3 linked regions of the Homo sapiens genome follow. The protein of the gene in region 2 purifies or fractionates together with the protein of the main gene of each other region. This does not show direct contact. Each region holds a gene or a part of one and is shown on either strand. Other genes may lie near its edges. The genes, in order: MAGEB3, MYH7B and TRPC4AP.

Region 1 (2,326 bases), on a different chromosome or scaffold from region 2:
CATGGTCCGATAACATGCCTAGACTTCCCCTCTAGGGACTATGGGAGGGGAGGATTTTGGAGGTTGGCGGACTTCGCTCAGTAGAGGTGTTACTCTGCTCCGCTTAGTAACAAGGTGAGAACCCTGAATAAGGACCTAGGGACCACTGACTCCAGAACAGTGGGGTCCCAGCGTGTCACCCCCTGCTGTCAGCCCTCGGAGACCCAGAGCGGGACGTGTCTCACCCTCACAACTCCCTGCCCCTTACAAAAGGGGACCCACACGTCTCACCCTTGTGGTTGACCCTGGGAGGTCCTGGTTGAGTTCTGTCTGGAAAGGCACCCAGAGGGAGGGTCTTTCACTAAGGGAGCAGCCCCAGTTATTCAGTTGGCGGGGACCTGGACCCTAACTGGAGCCAAGGTGAAGTCTCCGAGTGCTAAAGGATGGGATCTGTTCCCAGTAGGGGCGTCAACAGAAAGCAGCAGCAGCCCTACTGGTTAGCATCCTCCTGGTTAGCACCAGTGGTCCTTGTCTTTTTTATTTATTTTTATTTTTTTTCAGACAAGGTCTCACTGCTGCTAGCCAGTTTAGAAGGCTCCAGACAAGTGTAGTCATAAGCGGAGGCCCTGACTTCCCCATCCAGGGAGGGAAGTGTTCAGGGAGATGAGGGTTTTGTTTGGAGGTTGGCGAACTCAGGTCAGTAGAGGGAGAAATTTCAGGCTGTGATAAGATACCAAGGTGAAGACCCTGAATGAGAATCTAGGGACCAGCAACTCCAAAACAGTGAAGTCTCATAGAGTTCCACCCGTGTTGTCAGCCATCAGACCCCAGGAAGCTGTGAACAGATAAGGCTCTTCCTCACTTCCTTGGAAGTGCTTTGAAGGGGAGGATCTGGAGGCGAGGGGCACGGGATCTCTTCGGCAGAGGGTGAATTCCTTGGACTGTCTGGAGTCAAGGTCAGGACCCTGAATGTGCATGAAAGGGACCACCATCCCCCAACCTGTAACAAAGAGGGCCACACTAAATCCTGCCCCGGAAGTCTTCCCTGGGAATACCTTGAAAGCTGTCTGACAGATATCTACCTGGAAAGTCTCAGGGAGGGAAGGGCCTTGGTCTAAGAAAGTAGCCCCAGTTCAGCAGGTGGAAGAGAGACTTGGGTCCTAACTGGAGTCAAGGTGAGGGCCCTGAGTGCTAATGAAGCAATCTCTCTGCAATAGAGGTGTCAACACAAACAATGTCCTTGCACTCATTTTGCAACCTCCAGGCAAAGGTATTCATAGGTGAGGGGTCCCTGACTTCCCTGTCTAGGGTCTTGTTCTGAGGCTGGAGGACTTAGGTTAATGGAGGGAAGTGTCCCACATCCTACTAAGAGTCAAGGTCAGAGACCTGAGAGAAAACTAAAGGGAACACTCTCTCTAAAAAGTAGAGTCCCACAAATTGTGCCTCTTCTCTCAGCTCCAGGAAGCCTTGGAATAACGTCAGCCCCCCTTACTGCCTAGAGAGTGCCAGAAAGGTTGAACTAATTACATGCCCCAGTTCTGCAGAGGGAAGAGTGAGGAGACCCAGAGCCTTACAGGGGTCACAGTGAGGACCCTGAATGAAGACTAGTGATACAACTCCTCCCACATAAAGAAGAGACAACAAAGATTCCCCCACTCCCCACTTGCAGCGCTGATGAGGCTGGGCATGGAGGTCAGGTGTATGTGAACTCACCTTCTTTTAATGGCATTAGGTTGCTGAGAGCCTTTATCTAAAGTGAGGGGCATCAGAGCAGCAGAGGCAGCTGTCCTAGGTCCTATCTAGAGACAAGATGAGGACTATGAATGAGGTGTCAGGACTCCAATAAGCCCAGGAAAGAGTAGGACTCCACAATGCTGTTAGCACCCAGTTCCTCCTGTCAGGGGTGGTAAGGCTGAGACATTCCTTCACCTCCTCTTAGGTGGTCCCAAGGAGATGAGGACATTTGCTGGAGGTGTCAAATTTAGTGCAGCACAGGGGAGAAGACCCAGCCCTGACAGTTTTTATGATGGTCCTGAGTGTGAACTGAGAGAAACCTCCTACCCCAGAGTAAAAGGAGATCCACAAGGACTAGACATGCCACGGCTGCTCTCAGTCCCAGTATACACAGAACAGGGCTGGCAGGCTGTGGCCTAAGGCACACTTTAATTACTTTCACAGGGTTCTCAGAGGACAAACTGATCAGAACAGAAGCCCTCTGGGTTTCCAGAGCAGTGCTCTCACAGAAAACTGCAGAGGCGACCTTCTTTTAAATCCAAAGTGGTACCTCTCTGCTGAAGGCACTCATACCCTCTCTTTCTCTCTCTCCTCCAGGTGCCTGTATCACCTG
Region 2 (3,657 bases):
GGACACAGGGCAGAGAAGGGAGGGTCAGGCAGTGCTTACCGGCTATTCTCCCCACAACAATTGCAGCATAGGGGGTCCTGCGGGGGCAAGCCCAGCAGGAGTCTAGGGCCCTCCCAGAGGACCTCATCTCCCAGTCTGGGGCCTAAGTTTCTCATCCTCACTCCTGCCAAGGCTGAGGGCACTGAGAGTGAAGGGCCCTGACCTGGCCTTCACTTTGACCCTGGCTTCTTTTTCTGGTTCTCTGAGGAATGAGCCACAGTCCTCACGTCTCACTCATCTTTTGACTGTTGCTCATGGCCCCCTCTGGCCCAGATCCCATGCTAGATGCTGGCGCACAGGGAAGACCAGACTCTGCCCTCAACGGGCTTGCCAGAGAGGAGAGCTGGGCCTAGACAGTCATCAGTCCGCCTTGGTGCTGGGTGGGACCTCTCTAGTCTCAGGACAGCAAGTGGGGTTTAGGGCTTAGGCTCCTGGAGGCAGCGATAACACGTTGGCAGGTTGCTGGAGCTAAGAGGACTGTTCCCTAGCAGGAAAGTAACCAAAAGTCCCAAGAAGGAAGAGAGGCCACAGACCCCAGGACAGGGAGGGAAAGACCACCAGGGCCTGGCCTGATGGGGGCCAGGAAGCGCCAGGCAGCCCCTCCAGGTTCTGACTCCCACCCCCTTCATCGTACTGCCCCTCACCCTGCAGCTCTGGCTTCCTCCCTGAGAGGATCTGGTAGTAGACATGGTAGCTGCGCTCACCAGGCAACTGGAAGATCACCCGCGACTTCTCCAGGAGATCTGGGGAGAAGGGACGCTGGCCTGCCATCTCCCACACCTCCCCAGAGTGGACATCCCAAGGGGGCGATGCGGAGGGAGAGAGGTGGGCAGGGAGTGTGCAGGGGGGCTGCATCTGCACCTGCCAGCTTGTGTGGGGAGGGTATCTCCCCTGTGCCTGCGTCATCACACGAGCCGTGTGTCTGTACCTGTGTGTCTGTGTCTCTGGCCAGATGGGTCAGTGTGTGTCCTTGCGTGTGTGTGGGGTGAGTGTGGTGTCTGCGTGTGCAGGTTTTTATCTGTTGGTGTGTCAGCGTGTGTGCGTGTGTGGCCGAGCCTCCGTGTGTGTCTGTGTGTGTCTGTGTAGGGGTCAGGGTGTGAATTACAGCCTATCCCTGTCCCCGTCACTGCCTGCCTGCGCTCATCCGTCAAGACCTAGCCATGCAGCCCAATGTGGGGAGTGGCCAACGTGGGGGCCCCTCTGTGTCCCTGGCCCCCTTGAGTGTGGCCTAGGCGCCTGGGGTCTATGCAGCTGGTGGTACTGGGGCACTTCCCAGCGGGGTGCCTGGAAGGATGGGGCACTCTACGTGTAGCTGTGCAGCTGGGGCAGGAGGGCCGTGGGCCAGGCCTGCCCTCTTGGTGGCCAGAGAGAAGACTGGGGACACGCTAGGGGTGCAGTCACAGGAGCCTGACTGGCCAAATGAGGATTTGGGTCTCCATCCTCAGGTGACAGGATCTAGAGAAAGCTTTCAAGCAGGAACAGGATATGACCAGCAAAACTATGGCCGCGTAGAGGAGAGGAAGCTGGAGACCAGGCAGAGGCTGGGGTGATGTTCTGGTGATAGGTGAGGTGGCCTGAGCTGGGCAGCAGCCAGGGGGTAGAGAGAAGTGCCCAGAGCAGGCAGGAGCCCAGAAGTCGTGATGACAGAGGCCGAGTTGGGGTGACCGGGCTCAGGCCTCCTTCCCCTGCACCGCCCGCAGGGGGTTGACTCACAGCTGTCAATATCCGCGGATGCCAGCTTCCCAGAGGGACCAAAGTGAATGCGGATGAACTTGCCCTGTGGGCAGAGGGGCAGCCCTCAGCCAAGGGGCACAGCCAGCACTGTCCCCACCTGTGCCCGACCTGCCGCTGGTGGCCTACGGCATCCCCGCCACCCCTCCCACCTCAGCCACTCACAAAGCGGGAGGAGTTATCATTCCTCAGGGTCTTGGCGTTGCCAAAGGCCTCCATGGCAGGGTTGGCCTCGATGATTTGATCCTCAAGGGTGCCCTGGGGCGGTGGGGGTGAGGGGGTCTGTCAGTTCTGGTGCCTACCCACCGGGAGGCCAGAGCCACCCGTGGCCCCTCTGTTGTGCAGAGGAAGGGGGTACCCCCAGGGCTGCCCCATTGACATTGGCCCCATACTCACCCCCGTCTTTGTTGCCAGAAATTGCTGGGGGAAGAAGACAGACAACATTAGAGGGCCAGGCCTCCGGTGGGGAAGGGCGGGGTGGGGCAGGGTATCAGCGGGAGGCAGCGGGCAGCAGGACAGGGGGGTGGAGTTAGTCACCGGAATGCATGGCCCCCACCCTCAGCCCCTCGGCCTGACCCTCCTGCAGCTGTTAGGAGGCAAAATGCTGGAAAGTGGGAGTGGCACAGCCCCAGCCAGAGTCTCCACCTGCAGCCTCCTCTGCCCCAGCCCGGCCTCTGGCCTCCCTTCATTTTCTAGTCTCCATGCAGTGGCCCTGCTCCAAGCCCCAGGGGCCTCCCGACTAAAATCTAGGGCCCTCCAGAGCCCAGCCCAAGTGCCCCCTCCTCTAGGAAGGCCTCCTGGCTGCTCCAAAGCTGGAATAGACCTCTTCCTGGTCTGAACCTTCCTGCCCTAACCTCCCACTATGACCTTACACACCTCTCCTTTGTAATGCAACTGGGTGTGTCTTCATTGTTTGTCTGCCTGTATACCTACCAGTGCGCACAAAGGCCCTGCCAGGTGCCCATTATTAGCCCTAATTTGCAAATGAGGAGACTTAGCTCTGGGCAGGGAGTGGATCTGCTCAAGGCCACACAGCAAGTCAGGAGCGGCAGGGCAGGTGCCCAGCATCCTGCCGCCTGGACGCCACAGCGGTCCTGTGTGTCACCCAGGGGGACTAAGTGAATTGAGCAGATCCTCCTTCTCCCCATCCTAGCCTCATCCTCACTTTCCCTTCCTTTTCCTTTCCTTCTCTTCCCTACTCCGGATGCTGGGAGCCAAGGAAGAAAGGGAGAGAAGGGAAGGAATGGATTCTGGAGGGAACAGATATACCACCACGGACTTTGTGGTCATTCATTCACCTCCAGGGAGCCCAAGAGTTAAAATACCCACAGGGACATTGGGCAGGGGAGGTGGAACCCCCCAATACACTCCCATCCAGTGCTTTTGTGCAGGGCTCTCTCTAGCCCGTTTGGCCAAATTTGGGGCCAAGGTAAGGGGAGCTGATCAATCTTTTAAGTTCCTGCAGCCATGGCTCCTGCGGGCAGCCTCTCCCACCCCTCCCTTGCCCGACCCTCTCCCCTGGGCTCCACTGTCCCAGCTCCTTTCTGCCCAGGTGCTCCTCTGCCCTTCCAGCTGTGTCCCTGCCAGCTCTGGCCTCTCCCTGACATCTCTTCCTGTCACTTGACCCACCCAACTTTCTGTTACGTCCCCAGAGACCTTTTTAGGGATTTGGAAGACAGGGCAGGAAAGGGAAGGAGGAAAAAGGACCAAAAAGTCAACAGCAAAAACAAAACAAAACAAAACTGAAATGAAAATCAAAAATCAAGACAATCAAATGGGTAAAAAGGAAAAGGCAAAAAAAAAAAAAAAAAAAGAAAAGAAAAGAAAAGAAAGAAAAAAGAAAGAGAAAAGAAAGAAAGAAAGAAAACAGGGGAAAAACAAGAAAAA
Region 3 (3,657 bases), 99 kb from region 2:
CATGTATTGTCAGAATAACCCAACAAGGTATTTTATCTTTATTATCCTTTAAGATATCTATTTAGGCTGGGTGCGGTGGCTCACACCTGTAATTCTAGCACTTTGGGAGGCCGAGCTAGACGGATTCTTTAAGCTCAGGAGTTCAAGACCAACCTGGGCAAGATGGGTGAAACTCCATCTTTACTAAAAATACAAAAAATTATCCGGGCGTGGTGGTGCGTGCCTGTAATCCCAGCTACTTGGTGGCAGTGGTGGTGGTGTGGGGGGCTGGGAGGGGGAAGGGGGCAGGGCTGAGGTGGGAGGATCACTTGAGCCCAGGAGACGGAGGTTGCAGTGAGATTGCGCGAGACCCTTGCATTTAGTGTGGTATTTTGAGGCATTAGATGTCTTACATTTAGGATTAAAGAAACAAATAAGATGCACAGTTATCTTCATGGAATTTAGCCTTTAGTTATTTTTAAAAACAATAAAATCAGTGGAAACTGTAAATGTCTAGAAATGTCATATTTGCTAAACAGGTTGACAGTTTAGAGGGTATGATGTAAGAGATTATCACTGCTGTAAACTGTTAAACCACAAGTACTTCAAGAGAAAACCCATGTGATACCTGCCAGTAATTCAACTGGGAAGATGACTGAATGGTGGCACTTTTGTCACAGTGCTGAGCTGTTCACAAGGAAAACAAAATTCTAATGATTTTTTTTTTTTTTTTTAGACAGGGTCTTGCTCTGTTGCCCAGGCTGGAGTGTAGTGGTGAAAAAAAACTACTGAAACCTCCGCCTCCTGGGCTCAAGCAATCCTCCCACCTCAGCCTCCCGAGTATCTGGGACTATAGGCGCATGCCACCATACGCAGCTCATTTTTGTATTTTTTTGTAGAGATAAGGTTCTGCCATGTTGCCCAGGCTGGTCTTAAACTCCTGGGATCAAGCAATGGGCCTACCTTGGCCTCCCAAGTGCTAGGATATGAGTGTAAGCCGCTGTGCCCAGCCCCAAATTATTATTTTTAAATGAGAGTACATGCCTTGTAAGACAATGTATAAATAGTAAAGAAATTGCTTGTGAAGTCAAATATTTGGACTGTGATTAGATCTCTGCGTATCATGGAGCTTGTAACAAAAAAACAGCAGTGCCCTGCCTGCTTTGCACCTCTAAGTTCCATACTCCTAATGCTGTTCAGTGTCCATACTTAGCTATTTCTTTTGCAAGAGAAGGATCCAGGAAACAGGAGAGCCAGTATTTCTAAATAACATGGTTATAAAGCTGTTTCTTTTCACTTTTAGATACTATCTATTTTCTTCGCTCTTGAAAGACTAGGATTTAATTCACACATTCGATTCCTTCTTACTCGTCTCCACTAGTCTACCAATGTAGTTATATCACAGCTTTGGCTGTTGTTAAGTATTTACATTATGATGTTAGCATTATTATTTACAGCAGGGCCATATATTGTACAATTATATTTGTTTTATATAATTTTTTTGTAGTGTTAAAAACAGTCCTCTTCCATTTTTTAAATTGAAGGATAAATATACATATACCCTGTATATATATACATATACATATATATGCATATAAACATATATACATATACACATATATGCATATAAACATATATACATATACACATATATGCATATAAACATATATACATATACACATATATGCATATAAACATACATACATATACACATATATGCATATAAACATATATACATATACACATATATGCATATAAACATATATACATATACACATATATGCATATAAACATATATACATATACATATATACATATATACACATATATACGTATATACATATATAGATATATACATATATACACATATATACATATATACACACATATATACATATACCCTTTTGACTTTCATTAGCATAATAGTGCATCCTTTAATTTATTTTACTGTTTTTAAATTTGTATTAATGGGGTACAAGTGAAATTTTGCTACATTGGTGTATCGCATGGTGGTGAAGTCAGGTATAATGCATCCTTTTAAATTGTTTTGCCTTGTGTATACCTTTTTTTTTTTTGGGACGGAGTCTCGCACTGTTGCCCGGCTGGAGTGGAATGGCGCAATCTCGGCTCCCTGCAACCTATGCCCCCCGAGTAGCTGGGATTACAGGTGCCCGCCACCAAGTCTGGCTAATTTTTTTGTATTTTTAGTAGAGATGGGGTTTCACTATGTTGGCCAGGCTGGTCTCGAACTCCTGACCTCAGGTAATCCACCCACCTCGGCCTCCCAAAGTGCTGGGATTACAGGTGTGAGCCACCGCGCCCGGCCTGCTTTCTGTATACTTATAATTTGTTCCTAAATTCTAAAACTTTTTTTTTTTTTTAAAGAAATCATTTGAAGCCCTTCATTCCCCTACTGCAGTTTAGCAGTTTAGCAGTTTAGTTTAGCTGCTTACTAGGTCTGCTATACAGCTGAGTTCTTGGGACTTCTCTTCACCAAATCCAGAGCATTTTTCTTTCTTTTCTCATGTTTTAGACCTTGTTTCCTCAATTGTCTTCCTTTTTCCTGGGGCACACTCTCTGGTAGCCTCCCAAGAAAGAGTACATGGGAGGTAACTTTTTTTTTTTTTTTAAAGCTTGCAGATCAGAAAATGTCTTATTCTGACACATATATTTAGTTTGACTGGGTATAGAAGTATAAATTGGAAGTTATTTTCCTGTAATTTTTTTTTTTTTTGAGATGGAGTCTCGCTCTGTCTCCCAGATTGTAGTGCAGTGGCACCATCTCAGCTTTCTGCAACCTCCGCCTCCCAGGTTCAAGCGATTCTCCTGCCTCAGCCTCCCCTAGTAGCTGGGATTACAGGCGCCCACCATCACGCCCAGCTAATTTTTTTTTTTTTGGTATTTTTAGTAGAGATGGGGTTTCACCATGTTGGTCAGGCTAGACTCAAACTCTTGATCTCAGGTGATCTGCCCACCTTAGCCTCCCAAAGTGCTGGGATTACAAGTGTGAACCACTGTGCCCAGCCAAGAGTGTGTTACAGTTTTCTATGTAGCCGTCTTGCATAACTTTGTTAGATTTATTCCTTAGCGTTTTTAAAAGTGGTATTGTAAGTAGTGTTTTTAAAACTGCATTTAAAAATTGTAGCTGTAATATAAAAATAAGATAGATTTTTATATTATTCATGTATATTGCTGTAATAGTTGATAATTTACATTTAGGTTCTTTTGGATTGTATACTGTACAGTCATCTGTGAATATTATATCATCTGCAAATGAATCTTTTATCTTACCCTTACCAATCTTATGTCTTCTATATATCTTGCCTTACTCTGCTGCCTGAGACCTCCAGTATGATGAATAGAAGTAGCATGTTCCTGATCTAAGAGGGAAAAAACCTTAAACATTTTGCCATTAAGTATGATGTTTGCAGTGGGTTTTCTGTGGATACCTGTTACTAGAAATTCATTTTTTTATTTGAGTTTATCATGAATGGATGTTAAATTTTATCAAATGCTTTTTCTGTATCAATTGAGGTATTCATATCATTATTCTCCTTTATGTTATCAAATAATTATTCTCCTTTATGTTATCAATGTGGTGAATTGCATTGAATAAAATTTTCAAATATTAAACCAACTTTTAATTTCTGATACAAATTTTAAATTTAATTCAATTTT

What was found.
Region 1: the proteins of MYH7B (region 2) and MAGEB3 purify together in Homo sapiens (co-immunoprecipitation; one large-scale study listed by IntAct). This does not show direct contact.
Region 3: the proteins of MYH7B (region 2) and TRPC4AP purify together in Homo sapiens (affinity purification with mass spectrometry, with the first as the bait; one large-scale study listed by BioGRID). This does not show direct contact.

Annotation. Positions count from the first base shown.
Region 1 is NC_000023.11:30,233,554-30,235,879, forward strand, and holds part of MAGEB3 (melanoma-associated antigen B3), read left to right. Parts: intron 1-2,310; 5' UTR 2,311-2,326.
Region 2 is NC_000020.11:34,983,225-34,986,881, reverse strand, and holds part of MYH7B (myosin-7B), read right to left. Parts: intron 3,564-3,657; exon of another isoform or gene 2,347-3,563; intron 2,191-2,346; coding exon 2,167-2,190; intron 2,029-2,166; coding exon 1,936-2,028; intron 1,817-1,935; coding exon 1,753-1,816; intron 783-1,752; coding exon 684-782; intron 1-683.
Region 3 is NC_000020.11:35,082,666-35,086,322, reverse strand, and holds part of TRPC4AP (short transient receptor potential channel 4-associated protein), read left to right. Parts: intron 1-3,657. UniProt on the Homo sapiens protein: Substrate-recognition component of a DCX (DDB1-CUL4-X-box) E3 ubiquitin-protein ligase complex required for cell cycle control.